Linked DNA regions of Homo sapiens: all the other regions are linked to region 4. The links come from fine-mapping of genetic effects on gene expression. A gene starts in region 4. Each other region holds a variant in brackets. All regions are shown on one strand. Distances are from middle to middle.

Region 1 (5,104 bases), 190 kb after region 4:
TCTGTTCCAAATATAGTCAATCCCTTCTGCAACAGCTATGGAAATATCTGTCTCTTCTTACAGCCTGCCTCTTCCCCTGGGCAGGACCTGGCACTGTATTGGACTGGGGGATAGGACAATGGCCTGCTTCTACCAGAATGACATCTCTGCTCCACAAGCAGGCACCCATGAGGGACACTGTAGTTCCTGATTTTGGCTTGCTCCTCCCATTGTGGAGCCTCCACCCTACCAGTGAGCTGGGGTGGGGTGGTTGGGGCCCCAGTACTCTTGGCCTGCCATGCCTGGTGCAGAACCTCCACCTTAGAAGTGGGGACTGGGCGGGGCAGGGAGCCTCAGTTCTCTAGGCCTCATCTGCCCAGAAAGAAGAGACCTCCTGCAACCTGGAGCTGGGAGGGACATGCCTGCTTGTCCCAGGGTGAAACTGTAGCCCAGGACTGGGAGCTGGGGTAGAGAGAACCTCCATTTGTGGTTGCACCCACTGGAGTACAGGCTCTACAGCCAGAGGTAGGGTGTGGAGTGGGAACAGGTTGTGGCTCAAATGTCACAGATTCTCACTATTCTTCCCGAGATGTGGTAGATTTTCTTGAATAACCTTCTTCATTTGATGTGTGCCCTTAGGATGAGCTTCTCATACCACCATCCCAGAAGTCTGTACCCCCTTGTTGAGTTTCTTTTCTTTTCTTTCAACAGAGTCTCACTTTGTCACCCAGGCTAGAGTGCAGTGGCACGATCTTGGCTCACTGCAACCTCTGCCTCTTTGGTTCAAGCGATTCTCATACCTCAGCTTCCCGAGTAGGTGGGACCACAGGTGCACGCCTCCTTGTCTGGCTAATTTTTGTATTTTTAGTAGAGACAGGGTTTCACCTTGTTGGGTCTTTCTATTGAGGTTATACTTAGTTGATTTTTGATTGTGAGCTGCTTGTTTTCCTTGGGAAGTTAATTATGGCAGCTTTCTGAGGGCTGCAATGATGGTGCCTCCTTCTGAGAGGGTTTGGGTTTATTTGCTCCTGCGGGGGCCTGTCCATGATGATCAGTTTAAACTTGGGGTTTCCCTGGGTCCATCCAGGTCATGTGAATTTGGGCTGTGAATCCACAAGAAGGTCAGCCTTGCTTATGACTTCTCAGAGAGGGGTCCCCCTCCCTGCTCAGTGCCAGGTCCCATTCCTCCTACTTGGCCGAGGGTGAAGAGTTATTTCTGGTTCACCTACCTCTGAATGTCAGTTTATGGGGCCTTTCATTAGACTTCTCATCTTGGCCTTTATCCACCCCCAGTTTTCCAGGCTGGGAAGATGCCTCCAGGGCAACAAATCCATGGCCCTCTGGGTTCCACTCCATCTAGTCTTTAGCTTGATAATTTCTTGCCATCTTGTCAGCTCCTTGATGATTTTATGAATGTATGGTTTATATTTTATCCAGGCTTTCAGTTGTTTTCAGTAGAAAGTTTGTCCAGACGTCTGCCATATGACTGGACATGGAAGTGTGTCCGCTTATCTTCTCTACAAGGATATAGTGAGGCTTGTATAAGCCTTTTACAAAATCCACACTATAGCTGCAAGCGGTGTCCATCAGAAGCTGTGGGTGGTGCCCAGGTGTCAGGACCCTGGGCTATTGTCCAGGCTGCCGCTAACAAACTGGGATTTTGGGTGAAAAATGTGGCCTCTCTAATATTGCTTTTGTGGAAGGAAGGACACATGCCTTGAGGTGCCTGTGGGGACCAAGTGGGCTTCTCCCTATGAAGGTCCCAGCTGTGTCTGTGGACAGCTGAGCAGGAGGTGGTGGGCAGTGGTTTTTACGTCCAAGTTTCCCAGTGCCCAGTGAGCCCTGATGGGCTTTGGGAAGTGGAGGAAACCCCAGCATGGAGCTGACTGCCCACTGGGGAAAGCTGTAGCTTTCCCTGTAGCCTCTGTAGGCTTCTGCCACTTCTGATAGTGTGGGGAGGACTGCAAGGAGCAGGGCTGATCATCCAGGGCACCTGCTTTCCCTTGGGGACTGTCAGCAGCTTTGCCCACAGCTCACACTGCTTCAACTGCTACCATCCTGGGGT[C/T]CTCACATTCATGGCGCAAATGCTGCTGTGGACCTCCTGACACCAGGCCTGAGCTGGGAGGAGGGCAGACACATATAGCAGAGCCTCGACAGCAGGGGAGCAGTGGGGCCCAGTTGCCAAGGAGAGGGGTGAGGTGGGGGTGTTGGTGGGGGCTGTGGATTTCCTCCTAGGGAGATGGGAGTGGGCACTCCCAGCTGAGGAAATGGACAAGGCCCAGTGAGAGCAGACAGGATGGGGAGCACCGTGCTTTGGCTGGAGGAGTGAGCCAGGAGGGTCTTGGGTACCGTGGGTGAAGACAGCAGGCCCGGCATGCACAGATGACTACCCCAAAGCTGTGTGACCCTGGGAGACACTTAACCTTTCTGGGCATCAGCCTCTCCATCTGTGTAGTGGGTGTTATAGTGCCCTTGGGGTCTGCTGTGATGTCTGGGACAGATGACAGGGGCCTAAGGGCCAGGGAAAGTACAGGCTGGGTCCTCAGGGACCTCCTGACTCCCATGGCCTCAGCAAGCCCTCATGTGTGCGGCTGGCCACTGTCCCCACACTGGCTGCTGTTCTTGGTCCATCTCTGGGCCATTGACTGGTATTTGCTGAAGCCATGTTGCTTTGGGCACCTGGACCCATCTTGCTCCACGCTCCTTCTGCTACCCGGGCAGCTCAAGTCCTCTTAGGTGATCCCGATGGGGCCTGTGCATTTTTTATCCCCCTATAGCCACTGCACCATCCCTTTCAGTGGTCCTGATGCAGCCCTGGTCATGTCCCCTTCCCGCCACTGACATCGGAGCTCAGGTCTCCTTCTGACTGTGGCTGCCTGTATGCGCAGCCCCTATATGGCCTGTGCATCTTGGTGAGACTTCCTGACACTCTGTCCTGGGTTCTGCCCCATCTATTATATGCTCTATCTTCAGTCACTCCCCTAGTTGGACTGAGATCCCTGTGTCTTCCTCTTGCCCCCTGGAACCCAGATGGCAGGTCCTGAAGACAGGAACCAGACCCTCTCCCTCTCCCCTTGTCCAAGGATCCAACACAGTCCGCAACACATGATAGCGGTGGTCCAGGATGTTTTGCTAAATCTTTGGATAAATTTCACTGGGTTGACAGTGGGTACTGAGCCACCATCTCCATGTGCAGACCCTGTGGGACCATGTGGGGGACCTGTGCTACATGCAGGGATGGGACAGACACAGAATGAGCACATGGCCTTTCTGTGAAGAGAGGTGAGCACCCCAGAGGCTCACTCAGGGGTTGGGGCCCTAAGTGGGATGTGTGGCCTTTCAGAGAATCCAGGCCTGCAGCTGTGCTGATGAGACAAGCGAACGTGGGGGTCAGGGACATTCCAGGTGCTGGAAACCATGCAGAGTGGCCAGAAGGCCCTGAAACACCTGTTCTGGGAGAGCCAGTCACTGACCCTGTGTCCAGGGGCCATGGTGGTGACTTCACCCAGCCTGTGTCCTTGCCATCTGCTTACACATGGCAGCAGGCTGACCACTGAGCCACAGCCTGTGTGCTTCCCATCTCCAGGGTTCTCTGGGGCCTCAAGATGCCCTGGGTCCTGGGGAAGCTTGCATGGACAGAAGGGGAGATGTGAGTGCCTACACAGGCTTCTCAGACCACCTGCTGGGACCTGCAAGTCCTCTGTCCAACTTTACCAGCTGTGACCCCCAGGGGCCCTTCTCAGTGCTGTCAGCCTGGATTCTGAGGTATAGGTTTGGGCAGTCACGAAGGGAAGAAGGTGCCTTGAGTCTGGGAACCCACGACCCTGAACAGCTGGCAAGCCCTTTTGTGTTCTCCTCTGTGGGGTTCCAGCTAACACCTGTCCTCTGTATGTGCTCCAGGTGTTCTGCTGCAGGTGGGGGTGGGCTGAGCATGACAGTTCCCTTAACCCTGGGATCTGGACCCCTCCAGCCTTCCTTTGGCCTTAGACAAGCCACTCCCTTTTGCTGGCATCAGACGCTTGTTCAACCAAGGGGCTTCCAGGGTCTTCCCTAATGTTAGCATTAAGCAGGCTATGACTCTTGAGGAGTGTCTGGGGCGCTGTGTTCTGGTGGAGCAGGTCCCTGCACCAGAAAGTGGTCCTGTCTAAACCTGCCATTTCCATATTAAAGTGACTTATTCAGCACTTGCTCAGTGCCCAGGGTGAGCCACACATGGAAGAAGATCAGACTCTGAAATGCTCACTGCTTTCTCTATCATTCAGCCAAGACTTATTGAGGGAATGAATGAATGATACGTTCCTGGAGGTGGCACTGAGCATTTCAGACTAAGTTAGCCAGCTCAACCTCCTTGTGAGGTGGGGCCTGTATCCCTCATCTTGCGGATGGGGAAACTGAGGTTGAGCTGGTAACCAGTGAAGTGTGGGTGTGAGCCAGGTCTGTCCCATGTCAATCTGGAACCATTTTCTTATCTGCTTCTTCATGGTATTTCCTCTAGCCCAGCACCAGCCGCCGGAACACAGATGACAGGGCTGTGTACACACATGCTCATGTATGCATACACATATGCACTAAGATATAGATGGCAGGGCTGTGTACCTACACACACACACACACACACACACACACCAAGACACAGACAGCAGGGCTGTGCGTGCACACACACACACACACCCGAGACACATATGCCTGGGGTCTCTCTTGAGTATATGATGAGCACCAAAGCAGAGGTCAGGTGAGGGAAGTTTAGGAGCAGGGAGGTCCTGTCGTCTGGAAATGGGATGACCGTGGAGACAGGCCCTGAAGGACAGGGGGCATTGCTCAGTGGGAGGGAGGATGTTCCCCATGGGGAAATGTGTGGAGCAAAGGCATGAGGAGGAAGGGGAGGGGATGTTTTGGTGGGCAGAGGTTGGGAAGGGCAGTGGGGAAATCCTGGGACAAGCAGCTTGTGTCAGACCCTGAGAAAGTCCAAAGGACTCATTCCCATTGCTGGGAACATGAGTCCCTGCAGTGGCCTCAGCCCCTGGTTTCCCAGAATTGGAGGGGGTCTTTGACCGGGAGGGGTTGGTCTTTACTGGCCTGGAGCCCTCCTCTGCCGCCCCTGCAGGCAGTGGGATGGTCCCCAGGT
Region 2 (5,104 bases), 130 kb after region 4:
TGGCCAACATGGCGAAACCCCGTCTCTACTAAAAATACAAAAAAATTAGCCGGGCGTGGTAGGGCGCACCTGTAGTCCCAGCTACTAGGGAGGCTGAGGCATGAGAATCGCTTGAATCCGGGAGGTGGAGGTTGCAGTGAGCAGCGATCTTGCCACTGCACTCAGCCTGGTTGACAGAGCAAGACTCTGTCGCAAAAAACAAAACAAAAAACATAAAAATAAATAATTACGTTTGTTTGTGTTTGTAAACTAAAAATAAAATTGTAAGCCCCCCAAGCACTGAACGGACCTCCTCTTAGCCAAGGAGACCCCAGAGAAACCTTAAAAACTGAGTTCCCAGCCATTCTGGAAAGGGAGGTTGAACACCCCTTGTTAAAGTAGAGATCATAAGACTAACAGACTTTGTGGTAGTAAGATACCAAATTATAAACAAGACCTAAGGCCGTGCAAGGCAAGGGTTAAGTCAAGCTTGCAGACCATCAATCTTGCTGAAGAGGTCTTTTTTGACCCAGTGTATTGTGGCTGATTCTGGCATACTATCTTAAACATTCTTTTCTGCTGACTCCAAATTTTACACAGAGCCTCACTCTTTTAACCAGTTGCAAATTAAAAAATCTCTTGGTCAAGCTGGCTGAGGTGGGAGGATCACTTGAGGCCAAGAGTTCAAGACTAGCCTGGGCAACATAGGGAGACCCTATCTACCCCTACCAAGAGATCTATCTATCTATCTATCAATCAATCATATATCGTGTATATATCTATGTATTTGAGTCCACATATAACTTGTAAACCCCCCACATCAAGACATCCTGTCTTTTGGAGCCAAACCAGTGTATACCTTCCACACATTGATTTATGTCTTTGCCTGTAACCCCTGGCTCCCTGAAATGTATAAAACCAAACTATAATCTGACTGCCTCGGGAACACTTAAGGCTTTTTGGGTTTGTATTTTCCTGGGGCTGTGGTCACTCATTGGCCCTGAATAAACCTCTTTAAGTAATTTACAGAGTTTGATTTTTCTGTTAACAGTTAATTAAGATTCCATGTATTTATCACAAATTCTACTCCAAATCCTTCACAAGTTGTCTGTCAAAAGACAATATTACAACAGATTTATAGATCTGTTAAAAGAAAAGCTTTAGACAAACTAATGGAGTTTTGTTGAGGAAAGAACCTTGAAAACATGCTAAGGGAAAGAAGTTAGACACATGAGGCCACATATTGTATAGTTCCATTTATATTTGCAATGTCCAGAGTAGGTGAATTGATAGAGTCACCTATGTGATGTTGAGGTGGGGAGAATAGGGAGTGACTTCTGATGGGTTTGAGGTTTCTTTTTGAGATGGTAAAAGTGTCCTGGAATTGGATAATAGGGATGGTTGCACAACACTGAGTATACTAAAAGCCACCTGTGACTTAAGAAATATATATGTGGTCTCTGCATAGAGCTTCTAAAACCCTTGTAACTTTTTTCTTTAGGTTTTCATTAAGGCATTTTATAAAGATAATATCATTTGTATTTATAAAATGTTTGCTACATATACATAATATATATAGTGTATATATAAATTTAAATATGCTCAAGTTACAAAGCAGAATTATGAAAAGAAACCCGTGAACCCATTACTCCACTTAAGAAATAGAATATTACCAATATTGTTGCAATTTTCTGAGAGTTTCCTCTTCTTTCTTATCCCTCCACCCCAGCTAATTGCTATCCTGATGTTTTTCATTTGTGTATGTGTATTTTAATTTAATTTAAAGTTCCAGGATACATGTGCAGGACGTGCAGGTTTGTTATATAGGTAAACGTGTGCCGTGGTGGTTTGCTGCACCTATCAACTCATCACCTAGGTATTAAGCCCTGCATGCATTGGCTACTTATCCTGGTGCTCTCCCTTCCCCCTGTCCCATGGACAGACCCCAGTGTGTGTTGTACCCCTCCCTGTGTCCATGTGTTCTCATTGTTCAGCTCCCACCTATAAGTGAGAACATGCAGTGTTTGGTTTTCTGTTCCTGTGTTAGTTTGCCAAGGATAATGGCTTTCAGCGCCATCTGTGTCCCTGCAAAGGACATGATCTCATTCCTTTTTATGGTTGCATAGTAGTCCATGGTGTATATGTACCACATTTTCTTTATCCAGGCTATCATTGATGGGCATTTGTAAAACACTTGTAACTTCTTGAATGATAGTGACATCTTTTGTTATTCATCATAAGCCCCTTTTAACCATACCTGAGTTTATGCCACTAATGAAGTGGCTTTTGGAAGATGGGAGCTGGTTATCAGAGAAACCAACCATGTGATTAGAGGGCTGAAACTTTTAGCCCCACCTCTCAACCTCCAGAGAGAGGAGAGAGGCTGGAGATTGATTTGATTACAGTTTATCTAAAAGAAGAAACGGAGGCAAAATTAATAAAAGTGGAGAGTTTACATTTGAACCAAAATGAAGACAGCTGCCCAGAAGACTCACATGCAAGTAACCTGGGATATGAGCTTCATTAAGCCTTTGTTACAAGCAGGTTTTTAAAGGTAAAAAAGGGGACTAGGCATGGGGCAGATAAAAAGTTGTTTGTCAGGAATTCTCATTGGTTTACAGAAATAACATTGATTAGTGATGGCTATACATTGTTGAATGATAGGGTATGAGTTATGTTGTGCAGCATGCAGTATTGTTAGGTTAATTTATAGCTACTTGGGGGGCAGTCAGTCTAGAGTCCACATAGCAAGCAGCTTCAAAAGATGATTATTCAGCAAGAGGGAGGAAGTGAGATGTGACTGCTGTCTCTTTCTCATGCCTTTTTTTGGGCCTGATAATTTAGAGGAAGCTCATATTCCTCATATAAAAACATTTCTTTTGACTGTCATTACTAATGGCCAATGATTTTATCAATTATACCTAGGTAATGAAACTTCATAAAAACTTATTAAACAATGGGGTTCAGAGAGCTTCCAAGTTGGTGAATGCATCCACATGCTGGGAAGGTGTCACCTCCCAAACCCCATGGGAACAGAAGCTCTGATGCTTGAGATTCTTCCAGAAGTGTTGTGATTAGAGGAACAGTTTCCTTTGGAACCTGGCCCTAAGACTTTTTTTTTTTTTTTTTTTGAGATGGAGATTCGCTCTGTCGCCCAGGCTGGAGTGCAGTGGCGC[T/G]ATCTCGGCTCACTGCAAGCTCCGCTTCCTGGGTTCATGCCGTTCTCCTGCCTCAGCCTCCCGAGTAGCTGGGACTATAGGCACACGCCACCATGCCCGGCTAATTTTTTGTATTTTTAGTAGAGACAGGGTTTCACCGTGGTAGCCAGGATGGTCTTGATCTCCTCATCTCGTGATCCGCCCGCCTCGGCCTCCCAAAGTGCTGGGATTACAGGTGTGAGCCACCGTGCCTGGCCCCTAAGACCCTTTTAATCTAGATGTTCATCTGTATCCTTTAAAATATGCTTTGTAATAAACTAGTAAACATAGATGTTATGATCTGATTGTGTCCCTCCGAAATGTGTATGTTCAAGTCTAATCTGCAAAGTGTTGATATTAAGAGGTGGGGCCTTTGGGAGGTAATTAGGTCAAGAGGATGGAGCCCTCGTGAATGGAATTAGTGCCCTTATAAAAGAGGCCCGAGGGAGCATGTTTGTCCCTTTCTCCTTCTGCCATGTGAGGACACAGTAAGAAGTTACCTTCTATGAGGGAGAGAGCCCTTACCAGACACTGAAGCTGCTGGTGTCTTGATCTTGGACTTCCCAATCTCCAGAACTGTGAGCAATACATTTCTAGGGTTTATAAATTACTCAGTCTATGGTATTTTGTTCCAGCAGCCCAGATGGAATAAGGCAGTAGATAAAATGTTTCTCTGACTTCTGTGAGCTCTTATAGCAAATTACTAAACCTGAAGAGCAGGTCATGGGAAACCTTGCTTTGTAGCCAAGTCAAACAGAAGTGTGGATAGTCTGGGACCCACTACTTGTGACTGGCACCTGAAGTGAGGGCAGTGTTGTGGGACTGAGCCCTTAACCTGTGAGGTCTGTGCTAACTCTAAGTAGTTAGCGTCTGTTGTGGTTTGAATACTTGACCCCTCCAAAACACATGTTGAAACTTCTCCACTTGCCATGCTGGTTTTAGCATAGAAAGTCTCATGTCTTGGGAAGCTCCCCTACCCTTCCTCGCCTCAAGTCCCAGGCAAACTGGGATGCTTGACCACCCTGTTTCTGTCTGCTCCTGTCTATTCACCTTCCCTCCAGTTGGAATCAAACCACAGTTGATATGAGCTCTGGAGTGCAGAAGCTGATACAGCACCTGAGGCTGCCTTCTGACTGGCATCTGGAAACTTGGCTGGCAAACAGTTTCTTATACTGATAATAACTTCCTATAAAGGGCAGGGGTCTTCCCTGCACCTAAACTGTTTGTACAACAACATGGCTCATGCTAAGCACCTGCCTTTCTTCTGGGAGTTTGGAATTTTGGTGTATGCTAGGCAGACACCAGCTCCTGATAAAAACCCTGAGCACCAAGTCTCTATGAGCTTCCCTGGTAGACAGCATTGTACACGTGTCATCACAACTAATTGTTGAGGGAATCCAGTAGTGACTCCCTCTTGTTTCTGCTGGAAGAGAACTCTTGGAAGCTCATGCCTGGTTTCTTCCAACTTCACCTCATGTACCTTTCCCCTTTGCAGATTTTGCTCTGTATCCTTTTCTTTAAGTCTTAGCCAAGGGTATGACTGTGTACTGAGTCCTGTGAGTTCCTCTGGAGAGTCACAGAACCTTGGGGTGGTCTTGGGGACCCCTGACAAACCTGTTGAGGGACTTTCTCAGAGAAGGGCCCTTCTTCAGGGCCTGATGGAATCGATGTCTCTTCAGATTCCTGCATAAGAGGAGGAATCAGACCCAAAGGCTAGTCTAAGGTCAGCCTGGCTCCCTGCTCTGGCCATACACAGCCTGTTCTACCCTGCTATCTATGTGGCAAACTGAGGCCCAGGGAGGGCAGGACTTGCCTAAGGACACATGGAGAGTGAGTGTCCAGGTCTTCTGCCACCAGCCCCAGGCCTCCCCCTGCTTCTGTGCCTGCCCGGGGCTCTGTCCCAGCTGGACTCAGAGTGGTGGGTCTTTTGC
Region 3 (5,104 bases), 32 kb after region 4:
TATTTCTTACAAAGAGTTGCAACCTGTAGGCTGGCCATCCCACAGGCTGGGAAGCGTAGCCTTTGGCAGAGCCTGAAAGGTAGGCACTTCAGAGGAGGAGGGGTTGGAACAGGAATTTGTGCTGAATGGGTTTGTGCTGACCAAGTATATACATATTCAACAGGTTATAGGAGGAGTTATGAATATTCATGGAGGGGGTCCTGATGCATGTGTACTGAACAGACATGCAATTTATTTTATTTTATTTATTTTTTTTGAGACAGTTTCACTCTTGTTGCCCAGGCTGGAGTGCAATGGCGCGATCTTGGCTCACTGCAACCTCTGCCTCCCGGGTTCAAGCGATTCTCCTGTCTCAGCCTCCTGAGTAGCTGGGATTACTGGCGCATGCCACCAGGCCTGGCTAATTTTTGTATTTTTAGTAGAGACGGGGTTTCATTATATTGGTCAGGCTGGTCTTGAACTCCTGACCTCAGGTGATCCACCCGCCTCAGCCTCCCAAAGTGCTGGATTACAGGCATGAGCCACTGTGCCTGGCCCAAACATGCATCTTTTTTTTTTGAGATGGAGTCTTGCTCTGTTGCCCAGGCTGGAGTGCAGTGGCGCGATCCTGGCTCACTGCAACCTCCGCCTCCCAGGTTCAAGCGATTCTCCTGCCTCAGCCTCCCAAGTAGCTGGGATTACAGGCGCCTACCACCACGCCTGGCTAATTTTTGTATTTTTGGTAGAGACAGGGTTTCACCATGTTGACCAGGCTGATCTCTAACTCCTGGCCTCAAGTGATCTGACTGTCTCGGCCTTCCAAAGTGCTAGGATTACAGGCGTGAGCCACCTCGCTTGGCTAATTTTTTTTGTATTTTTAGGAGCGACAGGGTTTCACCATGTTAGCCAGGATGGTCTCGATCTCCTGACCTCGTGATCCACCTGCCTCGGCCTCCCAAAGTGCTGAGATTACAGGCGTGAGCCACTGCATCTGGCCCAAACATTCATTTTTAAAAGAACTTTTAGGTTCAGGGGTACATGTGCAGGTTTGTTATATAGGTAAACATCTGTCATGGGGATTTGGTGTATAGATTATTTCATCACCCAGGTACTAAGCGTAGTATCTGACAGTTATTTTTTCCAGACAGGCATGTTCTTTGCATTCCATGTTCACTTTGAGGTGGAGACAACATTATATTCAGGCCCCATACCTCAAAAGGTGAAGCAAGGAGACAGGGCACTCAAGTGCACAGCCTCTATAAACTGGCTAGAACCAGTCTGTGGCTGGTGGTCTTCTTGTCAGGAGAGAGTTACTGAAGTCAGTCTCTTATACAGTCACAGCTATAGTTTTGGCTTGTGGAACAGGAGGTCAGTTGGCATCTGGTGGTGAGTTGCAGTTGTTTTCCTATTGCTTATCCAGGACAGTGCTTGTTTGGCTGCTAGAGAAAAAGAAGAACCCTGTGGCAGTTAGAACAGAGTTGATCTTGAAGAGTCAGACTGTGTGGCTGAATCCTTACCTGGCACGGTCGTAGGTCTTGTTTATAATTTGGTGTCTTTTTTTCCCCATGATCTTCATGAACGCATGTAATTTGGTATTTTATTGCCACAGAGTCCATTCTGTCAGTTTTGTGGTCTCTATTTTAACATTAATGCTGGTCAGTTGTGCCTGAACTACAAAAGGGAGGGAATATAATGAGGTGCGTCCCAAGGCATCTTGTCATGGCTGGAACCAAAACAGGCTTTGTTCAGTCAGTTGGAGTGCTTAGGATTTTATTTTTAGTTCTTAGCCTGAAGACCTTGCTTAGAATTTTTCATGGTGTAGGTCTGACACATTGTTTCACCTTTTATTATCTGAAAATACCTTCATTTCATCTTCATTTTTGAAGGATAGTTTTACAGCAGCAGTCCCCAACCTTTTTGACACCAGGGACCGGTTTCGTGGCAGACAGTTTTTCCATAGACCAAAGTGGGGAAAAGGTTTTGGGATGAAACTTCCATATCAGATCATCAGGCATTAGATTCTCTAAGGAGTGCGTAACCTAGATCCCTCCAACACACAGTTCAGGGTTTGTACTCTTATGAGAATCTAATGCAGCCACTGATCTCACAGGAGGCGGGGCTCAGGTGGTAATGCTTGCTGGCCCTCCACTCACCTCCTGCTGTGTGCGGCCTGGCTCCTAACAGGCCACGGACCCAGACCAGTCTGTGGCCTGGGGGCTGGGGACCTCTGTTTTACAGGATATAGAATTCTAGGTTGACTGTTTTCTTTCAGCATTTTTTATTATTTATTTATTTATTTATTTTGAGATAGAGTCTCGCTTTGTCACCCAGGCTGGAGTGCAGTGGCGTGATCTTGCTCACTGCAACCTCCACCTCCTGGGTTCAAGTGATTCTTTTGCCTTAGCCTCCTGGGTAGCTGTGATTATAGGCACATACCACCACGCCCAGCTAATTTTTTTTTGTATTTTTAGCAGAGATGGGGTTTCACCATGTTGATGGGGCTGGTCTTCAACTCCTGACCTCCAGTGATCTGCCTGCCTGAGCCTCCCAAGGCGTGAGCCACCATGCCCAGCTTCTTTTGGCATTTTAAAGATGAAGACTCATTATCTTCTGGCATCCATTTTTTCTCTTGAGAAGTTACCTGTCATTTTTGTTGTACTGAATGTCTTTTATTTGACAGTTTTAAGAATTTCTTTTTTTTTTTTTTGAGATGGAGTCTTACTCTGTCGCCAGGCTGGAGTGCAGTAGCGCAATCTCAGCTTACTGCAACCTCTGCCTCCCAGATTCAAGTGATTCTCCTGCATCAGCCTCCCAAGTAGCTGGGATTACAGGCATGCACCACCATGCCAGGCTAATTTTTGTATTTTTAATAGAAATGTGGTTTTGCCATGTTGACCAGGCTGGTCTCGAACTCCTGACCTCAGATGATCTGCCTGCCTCGGCCTCCCAAAGTGTTGGGATTATAGGCGTGAGCCACTGCGCCTGGC[CT/C]TTTTTTTTTTTTTTTTTTTTTGAGACAGGGTCTCACTCTGTTGGCCAGGCTGGAGTGCTGTGGCGTGATCTCGGCTCACTGCAACCTTGCAACCTCCGCCTCCCGGGTTCAAGTGATTCTCCTGCCTCAGCCTCCTGAGTAGCCGGGACTACAGGCATGCACCACTGTGCCCGGCTAATGAAAAAAGTTTTTTAAATATAGATGGAATCTCAGTATGTTGCTCAGGCTGGTCTTGAACTCCTGGCCTCAAGCCATCCTCCTGCTTCCGCCTCCTGGGATTACAGGAATGAGCCACCGCACCTGGCTGGGTTTTATACTTTGGTTTGGTAGATCAGTTTTGATCTTTGTCCTTACTCTTAGGGTAAATTTCTTAGTCCTGGAATGTATGTTTTACTCCTAAGATGTGGCCTTTGTGGGGTTTCAAATGGATAGTCTCAAGTGTTTAAGGTACTGATTAAGCCCCTTTAACTTGGCAGGACTTGGACTCCAAACTCTTATCTACCCTGCAGCTAGGGAGAGCTAAAATCTCAGCTTTTTTTTTGAGACGGATCTTGCTCTGTTACCCAGGTTAGAGTGCAATGGTGTGATCATAGTTTACTGTGACCTTAAACTTCTGGGCTCAAGCAATTCTCCTACCTTAGCCTCCCAAGTAGGTAGGACTACAGGCATGCACTATCTGGCTAATTTTTATTTTTGTAGAAATGGGGTCTCACTATGTTGCCCAGGCTGGTTTCAAACTCCTGAACTCAAGTGATCTTCCTGCCTTGGCCGCCCAAAGTGCTGGGATTATAGGCATGAGCTCCCGCACCCAGCCATCAGCTTGCTCCTTCAACCTTCAAGCTATCGTGTCCTTTCTGGGCTTGTGGGAGTCTCACCTCCGCTTACGCAGTTCAGGGTTCAGCCAAAGATTTGAGGGGACCTTATACTCAGACTTTGGGTTCCTTTTTTAGTGGGTTCCTCCTTTCCTATATTTCCCTCTCAATTTCCAGCTTCTTTAGCAGTCTCAAATCCTCCTTTAACCTGTCAGGCCAATAAAATTGCAGCTTTTTTTTCTCTGCTCCACTCCTCTGAGACTGGGGCATACTCTCAGGAGTAAAGCAATATAAAAGTGGATCTTGCCCAGTGATGTTCCCTTCTTTCAAGGGTCATATAAATTCCAAGCTTCTTTTTTATTTCTTGTTTGTCTCCAGTGTCTTTAGAAGATTGTTTTTCACATTTTATCTAGAGTTCATAATCTCGGTCTGTGAGAAAGTTATTTTGATACAGTCTACTTCTCTCTTAAGGGAATAAGAACTTCTTTGGGTTTATTTTTTCTTGACAGTGTGTTTTGGAGCTCTTTCATTATAGATATATAGTTTCTTTATTCTTCTTTAGGGTGGAATGGCATTTTTATCTGTGGGCTACTGTATTTAAACAGCAGCCCTCCTATGGACTTTTAGGTTGTCATTTTGCTTAAAAAATAATGAAGCAATTAATTTTCTAACCTGTCATGTATGTAATGCATCTGTAGGATTAATTCCCGAAAATGCACTTGCTGGGAAACATAAGTGCATTTGTAATTTTAGTAGATGTTAACAAATTGTTTTGTATGGTAGAACCAAGGTTTATTCTTTTTTTCTTTACCCACCTCTCAAGAGAACAGTTTTTATTAGGTGAAAGTGGTATTTGCTAAAAATTTTGAGTATTTTCCAAAATGAACTTGTTAAGTTTTCTTACTAAAAAATACATTTGTATCTCAGAAGAAAGTAGCAAAATATATTATATGAAAAAAATCACACCCACTAGAAACAACTGTTATTAGTCTTTCACGTTGCTTTCCTGTTTGTGTATGCTTTTCTGTGTTAGCAGTAATAATACAGTCTTATTACCTTGGTATTTATTTCAAACACTTGCTTAGTGCCCACTGTGTAAAGAGCTTTCTGGGGAGCTGTCACTGCCTGCCTGAATCTCCCTCACTGTCTGAGGGTGGTCTTAGTGCTCATGAGGTCGAGAATATCGAGTGCTGTGTCAGAAGGGCAGAGGTCAGGTGGATTTAAAGCTGTTGCACCAAAGCCAGGTGTGGCGACATGCCTGTAGTCCCAGCCTACTCATGAGGCTGAGGTGGGAGGATGGCTTGAGCCTAGGAGTTAGAGAATG
Region 4 (5,104 bases):
AGGAACTGGCAGCTAACACGGTCGCCTCCCAGTTTCATGGACACTGGTAGAAAATACAAAATTCCTCGATTAGGGACAAGGGACCACTGATTATTCAAAACAATAGCAATAGCCAGAGCATCAGCATTTTCCACCACCCTCCCAAGCCCCAGTTCCCATAGGGGAGTCAGAGGCACCTGCATGAGCCATTGGACTACTACAAGAAAGGAGCGCAGGACTCTACCCTTTCACAACGCACAGCAAGAATGCCTGCCCTCTGCTCTGGAAGAAGGTACTAACCTCTTACCTTCCAAGGTGGTAGAACATGCTTGAAAAGATAGTAAGTGAAAAGGGGTAGCCAGTGCTTTACTCACAAGACTGCTTGAACATGAGACTCAAGGAGGGACCTCAGCAGGCCTGGGGTGTTCAGCAACTATTCCTGGCCTGAAAAGACAGAATCAGCTGAAAGCCTCTACCTTTAAGAGAGGTGACCCCACCACCCAGAGGAACACAGGAGCTGTGCTGCTCGTGCTATGCTCAAGCCAGCAACACTCTTCTCATCCCAGCCAGTCCTTTAACACACCTAACACCAAGACAAGAACTTGAAGGCATCCATCTCCTTCCCATCCAAACTTCCCACCGGCTTCTATATTCCACTCAGGATGCAGGGTTAGAGAGGCCTGGCATCAAACCCTGATCTGCTGGTTTGTGGCTGGGCAACCCTGGACACATAATTCTGACCTTGGGCCCCTCATCTGTACTGAACTTAAAAACGACCTCATGATGATACCTCAAAGATTTAAAACAATTAAGAGGTCTGGCGCAAAATAGGTGTTCAACATTAGCACCTTCCTCTTCCATGAGTTTTTCCTTTAAGATGAGCACACATTGACCTCACCCTCCACTAGCTCCTGGGGCACTCAGCTCCTCTGCAGAACTGAGACTTTGGTTCTCTTTGCTTTGCCTTGTAAATATCCTATTCCATGAGTCTCTCAGGGCAGGACTCTTCCCTGTTATTCCTCTTCACTGTTTCAACTCCTACCCTTACCACCACTCTTGGCTTCATCCTCAACTTTTATAAGACTTTTGCTTTAAGTGTATAATAAAATAAAATTTGTACTGAGCCTGGAGCACAGCAAACACTCAGGATTCCCTTCACCTTTCACACCAGCATTGTCCAAAACAACTTCCACAGCGACAGAAATGCCCTCTAATCTGTGCGGTCCAATATGGTAGCCACTGGCCACCTGTGGCTACTGATCATCTGAAATGTGGCTAGTGTGAAAATGAAATAAAACTCCAAATTTAATTTAATCATGTGTGCCAAGTGGCTACCACATTAGATGGCACGGATCTATACAAGGCCCAGGACACTAGATCCAGGAGGGAGGAAGTCATTGTCTGAAATTTCTATAACCTTGCTCTGGATGGAGCAGGGCAAGGCCTCAAACCGTTTCAAAACTGTTCTAGCAAGCACTGAAGGAATGCATAGGGTCACCGCAGACCCAAGCACGCTGGAGGCTTGCTACCCTCATTCACCCAAATCCCCCACACTCAAGGAATCTGGCAGTCCACTCTCACTAAGCACCAGTCCCTGCTGGGGGCTGTGGGAAGAGACCAGAGTTCAATTAGGCACCTGAGCTTGGTTCCAGGAGCCCAGAGCTACTAATGACTCTCAGGGAAAGATCCTTTCTGGCTGAGGAAGAAGGGAAGGTGTCTTGGAAGAGATAACCTTATTAAATTATTAAATAGATCAGACAACACGAACTAAACTTCCACATTATTCTATGACACTACAATTCTAGCATGGCTTTTCACTGTGACCAGAAACATCCTTATCATCATGTAGTTAATATAAATACTGCCTTTTCCCCTTCATTTTTTTCTCATGTATCTTACGGCTCAGAAATCACTTCTGAAGGAGTAAGTAGACCAGGCACATGAAGTAGATTTCATTTTCCCCATGAAATAATGGTTCAGAGAAAACGCAGGCCTAGTTCCAGGAAGGCAGAGTTGGGGTCTCTGCAACGTGATTTACCGGGGCATCTTGCAAAGGAGTTGCTGTGACAGTAAGCTCTTCCACTTTGAGACCGTCACCTCAGCCACGGCTCCCACCTAGAAGGGAACAAATGCAGTTAGCTCCAAACGCAGTTAGCTTCAGCTTGTGCCTCTGAACCATTATCCAGCTCTAGCTCCTTGCAACGCCTGGCCCACTCTACAGCCTCTCTTGCGGCAGGTCTACACGCCACCCCATGCCTTCCGGTGAGGTCCCTCCTGACCACACGTCCCATCCCACCTACTGGGGTCCACCCAGGTCATGCAGAAGCCCCACTTCTCGGCTGAAAGAGAAGCACGAGGTTACTCATCAAGTAATCCCCGAGTCTCCTCCGGGTAAAATGTTCCGAACGCGCTCAACCGCCTCTTGAGAGGAAGTAGCACGTGTAGTGAAGGCTTGGTCTCCAAGAATCACTGGTGCCCCCACTCACTGCGGCCCAGCCTCCCACGCCGCCCGCCACTGAACCCAATCCCCCAGGACCCCTACCTGGGCTCAGGAATGGTCAGGCAACACGTGGGGCCCAGGATGGCGGTGGATGACTAGACTGCCGAAGACCGCGCCGCTGCGACTACGAAGTACGGAGTACGGAGTACAGGTCTGCCAGCCAAGACTGACGCCGCGCGCTGCGCCGCGCACCTCGACGTCACCGCGTAGTCCCGCCCCGAAGCCGTGCGTGGCCGGGGCCACAGCGTTTGGGGTAGATGACGTCACGCGGCCGCGGGCGCTCGCTTGGTAGGGTGTGCTGGGGCGTAGAGTTTAGGGTCCTGAGGCTGCGTCTGCGTGTCAACTCAGTGGAGTCTCTCGACCGCCCTTTGTTACCCTCCTTTAGTGACCAGAAGGCTGGAGTTACGTAATCTGCCCCTACAGCTAAAAGGACGGAGGCCTGACGGCGTGGCCTGGAGGGACGCGCTGAGCCCCTAATGGGTGGTGCCTTCCTGGTGCGGCCGCACAGGCGGGGCCGGGCGGAATCCAAGCACGATGTGGACACGGAGCCTTGGGAATGAACAGGAGCCTGCCTGTGGGAGCATGTGGGAAAGGTGATGCAGGTGGAAGGGCAAATACAAATTATACATAGGGTTTAATTTTCCCTGAGGAAAAGAAGGGACGAGAAACCATCCCCCTCCCTTTTTCTTTCAAAATTTCAGCCTCTCTCCTTTCCAAATGTACTCAAGTCTTTTTCTTATATGGCCAGGTTCAACTCAGGAATGTTTCTTGGGAGCCATCTCCTTGAAGTGTAATTGTTGGCTGGGTGCGGTGGCTCACGCCTGCAATCCCAGCACTTTGGGAGGCTGAGGCGGGCGGATCACAAGATCAAGAGATCGAGACCATCCTGGCCAACATGGTGAAACTCTGTCCCTACTAAAAATACAAAAATTAGCTGGGCATGGTGAAGCGTGCCTGTAGTACCAGCTACTCGGGAGGCTGAGGCAGGAGAATCGCTTGAACCCGGGAGGCGGAGGTTGCAGTGAGCCGACATAGCACCACTGCACTCCAGCCTGGAGACAGAGCGAGACTCTGTCTCAAAAACAAAGAAAGAAAAAAATGCAATTGTTAAGGGACGAAAGGGCCAAGAGTCCAGCTTCTTAGGAGGACAAAGGCTTAACTTGGCACCTGACTCCAAATTGCAAAACCTACATAATGTGATGGGCTATCTCTACTTAGCTGCATAGAAAAAGTGAGTTTCTGTCTTTGTGTTGCCTTTAGCAGGTTGCATGTGATGTACGGCATCACAATCTGGTTTAATACTTATTCAGTAATGGTTTTCTGTCTCTTCTACCTTTGTGGAGAGGTTTCATGGGTTGGGAGGAAACTACTCTCCACCCCCCACCCACCCCCAGGCAGAGGAAAGCACATTGAAAGGTCCTGAAATTGGGAAGGACATGGTTTGCTGGTGATACAGCTAAGTATTACAAGTTTGTAGTGTTCTGGAAGGGTCTCAATGAGGAGCGGGAGATAAGGACGATGTGTTCAAGGGTCTTGAATGATCAGGCTAGAAAAGTGAGAACGTGGTTCTATAAGTAAAAGCAGAGCAGTGCTTGAAACTCGTATTTTATGTATTGCACCTAGTAAATACATTCAATCACTTTACAGTATACAAATCCCATACTTCACTAAGTGTCAAAACCCTAACAGACAGATAAGGCAGAACTGTTACTTCCAGATTACTAACGTGGAAACTAAGCCCCACCCAAACAAGTTAAGTGGTTTGTTCAAGACCTCCTACAACAGGCTGGGCGCGGTGGCTTATGCCTGTCATCCCAGCACTTTGGGAGGCCGAGGCGGGGAGGCGGGTGGATCACCTGAGGTCAGGAATTTGGGGCTAGCCTGACTGACATGGAGAAACCCGGTCTCTACTAAAAATACAAAATGAGCCGGGCGTGGTGGTGCCTGCCTGTAATCCCAGCTACTTGGGAGGCTGAGGCAGGAGAATTGCTTGAACCCAGGGGGCGGAGGTTGCGGTGAGCCGAGATCGCGCCATTGCACTCTAGCCTGGACAACAAGAGTGAAACTCCATCTCAAAAAAAAAAAAAAAAAAAAGGACCTCCTACAACAGCCAGGGCCTGGTGCAGGTTGTCCTAGCACAGGGTTCACTGGTCTGTCCATTCTGCCACTGCTATGAGATTGTAATGGCCCAACAGGTTCACCTTGCCTGCTGCCTAGGCAGAACCAATTTATCAAGACAGGTGAATTGCAATAGAGAAAGAATAATTCATGCAGAGCCAGCTGTGTGGGAAACTGGGACTTTTTTTATTACTCAAATGAGTCTCCCCAAGCATTTGGAGGTCACAGTTTTTAAGGATAATTTGGAGGGTGGGTGGCATCCAGTGAGTCAGGAGTGCTGATTGATCGGGTCAGAGATGAAATCATAGGGAATTGAAGCTGTCTTGTGCTTGAGTCAGTTCCTGGGTGGGGGCCACAAGATCTGATGAGCCAGTTTATCGATCTGGGTGGTGCCAGCTGATCCATCCAGTGCGAGGTCTGCAAAATATCTCAAGCACTGATCTTAGACTTCAGTGATGTTATTCCCGGGAGCAATTTGGGGAGGGTCAGAATCCTGTAGCCTCTAGC
Region 5 (5,104 bases), 140 kb before region 4:
TAGCGTATCACTAGAGATTGAAAAATATCTGAAAAACTAGAATTGGCCGTGCGCGGTGGCTCACGCCTGTAATCCCAGCACTTTGTCAGGCCGAGGGGGGCGGATCACAAGGTCAAGAGATCGAGACCATCCTGGCCAACATGGTGAAACCCAATCTCTACTAAAAATACAAAAAATTAGCAGGGCGTGGTGGCGCACGCCTGTAGCTATTCGGGAGGCTGAGGCAGGAGCATCGCTTGAACCCGGGAGGCGGAGGTTGCAGTGAGTGAAGATCGCCCATTGCACTCCAGCCTGGCAACAGAGTGAGACTCCGTCTCAAAAAAAAAAACCACAAAAAACCACAAAAAACAAACAACAAAAAACCAAAAAAAAAAAAAACCACAAAAAACTAGAATCATGAAAATCATCTGTTTGAGCAAATCCTTTTACAGATTAGATGTAAGCTGTACCTCAGTTTGATAAAGTACTATAAAGTACTTTACAATAACAATAAACTATACGTGAGACGTTGGAAGCAATTATCCCTAAAGTCTATTCCAGCTCTAAGATTTGGGTTTTTTACAATAACAATAAACTATACGTTAGACGTTGGAAGCAATTATCCCTAAAGTCTATTCCAGCTCTAAGATTTGGGTATTTTACAATAACCAAACATTGTCCTCTCGACTGGCCAATCTGTTTACAGTTAGGTGTTATGTCTATTCAATACCATATCTGTCACATCAAGCACAAGACAAATCATCTAATACTATCTGCAGTATGATAAATGACAGCTTGGTGCTAACTTTTAAGCAGGTAGCTCCCGTTGAAGTAACCTTTCAACAGAATGCTTAAAGCACGAATACCGGCAAAAATAAGATTCCATAACAGTCTTATTATTTTTACACAATCTTTGATGCAACTCAGAGCGTATCCTTTAGCACCTTCTCTTTTCCCCTCAACTTTAAAATGGGGCTGAAGTTCTATTCACTTTCATTTTTTTAAAGCCACACTCTTCTTATCTAGATCTGAATTTCAGAATGAAAAGATGAATACTTTAAGACTGAAAATCCATAGCAAGGGCAAAGGAAAGTACTGTTGTATAATGAAAACCGCAAACTGCAAGGGGCTCAGAAGATAACGGGCGTTCATTTCTAACCTGTGCAATCACCTAGAACAAATCGTGTGGTTCTGGTCTATAAAACCATTCTTTGTCGCTCAAAAGACCACAAATACAAGCACCCTTTCGCAGAAACCCTCAAACTGACTGCCAGGGAGATTACGTAACCAAACATCGCCAAAGACTTATCTAACTTGTACAGCGGCAGCCTGTTTGACCTCATTCATACAGAGAAGCGATCACATTAAGATCCAGCACTTGTTTCTACATTTCCAAGCCGGATTCTGCCGTCCTCCTCCTTCTAAGACGGGCGGTGCAGCGTCACAAGCGTCGGGACAGATCTATCCGGCTCGGAACAGACTTCGCGCTCTACCCGGCCAGGCCCAGCTCTCACCCGGGGACCCGTGTCGGGCTCCGCAGCTGGGACATGGCGCCCCCCGGCGGGCGGCGAGGGGCTCGGCCGGACGAAGCCCAGACACCCGCAAACTCCCGACTCCACAGGTAGCGGCGCCGACGCCAGGGCCTCCGCGCTCTGCTCTCCCAGGCCCCGTGCCCCCGGCCCACCCGGCCGCCCTTACCATGTTCTCGGCGCCGACTCCGCCTCCGCTCGGCCGCGCGCCCTCCCGCTGCCGACCCGCGCCGCCGCCGCCGCTCTCGCAGCACCGACCGCCGCCGCCGGAGCCGGACAATACCCCGTGCCCGCCTCGCGCTGCTGTGGCCAATGCCCGCTTGTCTTGCTGGTTCGAACCCCAGCGGCTGTTCAATCGCGCGCCTCCTTCTAGCCAGACCCCGCCCCCCCGGCACCGCCTTCCTAACGGCTGTTTGTTTTTGCACACGGCACGCGGAGG[C/CG]GGGGCCTCCAGCCCCAATAGTGACGCGCTCTCTGCCTTTCACCAGGCGCCCAAGCCTGACGAACAGAAAGGCAAACCAATGAGATTGGACGCCTCGCAGACGAAAGCCAATAAAAATATCGCCCGCGAGCAAGGGAGGCGGGCCACTGGGAAGGACAGCAAAATTAGCTAATAAGGTGAAGCGATTGCAGGCGCTGTGGCTTTCCCGCCCATTCGCGGCGTTGGTTTTCCCGCTTCTGAGACTTGTTTGGGGAGGTAAAGAGTGTTGGACGTGCTTCTCCTGGTGGGTTTTCACAGACTGTGAGGATTTATTCGTCTTAGAACGTGTGGATCAGGAGGGCGCTGGGTTTCAAGGTTAGGCAGGCCTCATGCTCAGCCGTATTCTGGCGGACTGACTACCCTGACGTCCTCTCAGCGCGGACCCTGACAAGGTCCGCGGCAGGCTGAGGCGGGAGAATCGCTTGAACCCCGGAGGCGGAGGTTGCAGTGAGCCGAGATCGCGCCACTGCACTCCAGCTGGGCGACGCATCGTCTCAAAACAAACAAACAAAAACAAAAGCTATCAATTGGCTACATATTGTTATTTGTATGACAAATTCTTTTTCCTTTTTTAGAGATGGAGTCCTGGGACTACAGGCGCGCGCCCCAATGCCCAGCTAACTTTTGTATTTTTAATAGAGACGGGGTTTCTCCGTGTTGGTCAGGCTGGTCTCGAACTCCTGACCTCAGGTGATCTGCCCCCCTTTGCCTCCCAAAGTACTGGGATTACAGGCGTGAGCCACCGCGCCCGGCATGTATTACAAATTCTAAGAACACGAAGATAATGGGGCCGGCTTGGTGGCGCGAACCTGTAGCCTCACCTACTGTCAAGACTGAGACAGGAGGATCTCTTGAGCCCAGGAGGTCGAGGCTGCAGTGAGTCATGATCGCACCACTGCACTCCAGCTTGGGAGACAGAATATACCCTGTCTAAAAAATAATAATAAAAAAAAAGGTAATGGATGAGGCCGATAGTCAGGAATGAAATGACTTTAAACAATTGGGTATGCATGGGATTGGGTATGTGTGTATGTGGGGGCAGAGGGTGGGCATAACCGAAGTCCCATACTCATGTCCCTCTAGGCCTAATACATTTTGCAGACCTCACAGAGCTCAGACTGTTGTGAGCCGTTTTTCTTTTCTCAACCTCTTCAGTGTGTTTATTTTGCTTACATCATTAGGTTAAAATTTGGAGGATAACTCCCAGCTAGAAAGGAAGAAAAGCTCTAAAGTGGAATCGCCTTCCCCCGGAAGCTGTTGTAAAAATTAAAGGATGTATGTGAGTGCACAGGCTCTCCAGCGATCGTTTTTCTTCCACAGTGTTAACACAATTTATTTATTTATTTACTTTTTGAGATGAAGTCTCACTCTGTTGCCCAGGCTGGATGGAGTGCAGTGGTGTGATCTGGGCTCACTGCAACCTCCGCCTCCTGAGTTCAAGCGATTCTCCTGCCTCAGCCTCCTGGGTAGCTGGGACTAAAGGCTCCCACCACCATTCCCCGCTAGTTTTTGTATTTTTAGTAGAAATAGGGTTTCACCATGTTGGCCAGGCTGGTCTTGAACTCCTGACCTCAAGTGATCCTCTCGCCTCAGCCTCCTAAAGTGCTGGGATTACAGGCGTGAGCCACCGCGCCTGGCCTGTTTCCACAATTAAAAAAGGCCCATCACCCTATCATGATCATCTCTATTACAGTCTGGACAATATGAGCTTTCTGGGAGAGCCAGCTTCATTTCATAACTGAAGAAATGGGCTTAGGTGAACTTAGTCATTTGCCTGAGACCGCATAGCCTGTAGATAACCAAGATACCAGCTCACATTTGTTCCAACTCATTCCAGCTTTAAATTCTTTCATTCTTTTCACAGTATGATGCATTGACTGTGCTAGAATGTGTTCTTGGTGTTGGTGAGTTAATAGTGAAAAAAACAAGTTTCTGCCTTAGTGGAGATTCTGTTGTCATAGGATTTTCCCAGGCTGGCACTTTAGAAATTTATATCCAGGCTGATGATAGCTGTTCCAAAGTTTGAATCAGGAGAAGCAACTTTGGGGAAGTGAGTCTTTAAAAAAAGGTAACTTAAATTCAAGAAGAGGAAGAGGGTGAGCTTCTAAGTAAGAATTTGGAAAAATACGGATGAAGGTACAGACAAGTGTGAGGAAGGGTGTCCAGTGAAATAGGAAGGAATGGAGCAATGTGCCCAGATTAATAGAAGCCTCAAAACTAGGTAGAAGAGTGGAGTTACTTCAGTAAAAATAGCCATTGTTAATTCCTGCTCCTCTGTGTTTCTGGCCTCAGTGGATGGCATTACCAATCTACCAAGGCATAAGCCTGTGAGTTATTCCTTTAACAAATCACTCAGTGCCTACTGTTTGCAGGCACTGTGCTAGGTACTGAGGATTTGGTGATTAGCAAAATAGACATTGTCCTTGCCCTTGTGGTCCTCTGCAGCGGGAGTCAGATGTTAAAGAAATAAACAAATACCATATGTGAATTATAATAAGTTCAAGTGTGCTGAAGGAAAAGAACAGGGTGCTTTAAGAGAGAAACAGGGAATGTAGTTTAGCTGGTGTGGGTGGTCCACAAAGAGCATGCAGGCTGGGCGTGGTGGCTCACTCCTGTAATCCCAGCAATTTGGGAGGCCAAGGTGGGTGGATCATCTGAGGTCAGGAGTTCGAGACCAGCCTGGCCAACATGGCAAAACCCTGTCTCTACTAAAAATGCAAAAATTAGCCAGGCGTGGTGGCGCATGCCTGTTATTCCCAGCTACTCAGGAGGCTGACGCAGGAAAATCACCTGGGCCCAGGAGAGCCTGGGAAGCGGAGGCTGCAGTGAGCTAAGATTGCGCCACTGCACTTCAGCCTGGGCGACAGAGCAAGACTCCACTCCATCTCAAAAAAAAAAAAAAAAAGAAGAGTTGCCCTTGTGAAGGGGGGCTGAAAGAAGTGTCCAATAATGTATGAGAAAGCACCTAGCACTGTACCTAGCACATAATATCCAATAAATGTTAACTTCCTTCCTTAACAGGAAAATCATTTTCTCACCACTCTCTACCCCTCAGCCTTCATGTCATTGATTCAGATTTTGATGAAAGTGGAGTTAGGTTGAAAAAGACTGGTTCTCA

Alleles and levels. Alleles are on the strand shown, and positions count from the first base shown. SD is a standard deviation of normalised expression in the study named. Not every link is listed here.
In carriers of allele C in region 1, the expression in fibroblasts of the gene that starts at base 2,693 in region 4 tends to be lower than with T alone (small effect, 0.36 SD a copy in GTEx).
For the expression in NK cells of the gene that starts at base 2,693 in region 4, allele CT in region 3 goes with a lower level than allele C (small effect, 0.32 SD a copy in Gilchrist 2021).

Evidence for each region. PIP is the estimated chance that this variant, and not a neighbour inherited with it, causes the effect.
Region 1: its variant is fine-mapped to the expression of SNHG15 in fibroblasts (GTEx, PIP 0.94).
Region 2: its variant is fine-mapped to the expression of SNHG15 in monocytes (TOPMed, PIP above 0.99).
Region 3: its variant is fine-mapped to the expression of SNHG15 in NK cells (Gilchrist 2021, PIP 0.90).
Region 5: its variant is fine-mapped to the expression of SNHG15 in whole blood (TOPMed, PIP above 0.99).

Annotation. Positions count from the first base shown.
Region 1 is chr7:45,171,811-45,176,914 of GRCh38, forward strand. All of the region lies in intron 1 of RAMP3 (receptor activity modifying protein 3), which reads left to right. Among named protein-coding and RNA genes, the nearest start is that of RAMP3, 17 kb to the left of the region's middle. The variant C/T (reference allele first, on the strand shown) is at 2,045.
Region 2 is chr7:45,112,358-45,117,461 of GRCh38, forward strand. No RefSeq gene overlaps it. Among named protein-coding and RNA genes, the nearest start is that of TBRG4, 3.2 kb to the left of the region's middle. The variant T/G (reference allele first, on the strand shown) is at 3,156.
Region 3 is chr7:45,016,093-45,021,196 of GRCh38, forward strand. The region is part of intron 1 of CCM2 (CCM2 scaffold protein); the gene reads left to right. Among named protein-coding and RNA genes, the nearest start is that of CCM2, 18 kb to the left of the region's middle. The variant CT/C (reference allele first, on the strand shown) is at 2,967.
Region 4 is chr7:44,984,004-44,989,107 of GRCh38, forward strand. It overlaps SNHG15 (small nucleolar RNA host gene 15), which reads right to left and starts at 2,693. Exons shown (of 3, transcript NR_152597.1): 1 at 2,522-2,693; 2 at 1-43. It overlaps SNORA9 (small nucleolar RNA, H/ACA box 9), which reads right to left and starts at 1,507; the gene lies at 1,375-1,507. RefSeq lists a silencer at 1,085-1,265 and enhancers at 1,792-2,538, 2,384-2,503, 2,539-3,286.
Region 5 is chr7:44,846,292-44,851,395 of GRCh38, forward strand. H2AZ2 (H2A.Z variant histone 2) reads right to left here and starts at 1,796. Exons shown (of 5, transcript NM_012412.5): 1 at 1,678-1,796. The coding sequence starts at 1,680. H2AZ2-DT (H2AZ2 divergent transcript) reads left to right here and starts at 2,180. Exons shown (of 2, transcript NR_187581.1): 1 at 2,180-2,230; 2 at 3,168-3,274. RefSeq lists enhancers at 1,379-1,936, 1,937-2,495 and silencers at 1,422-1,811, 2,072-2,131. The variant C/CG (reference allele first, on the strand shown) is at 1,948.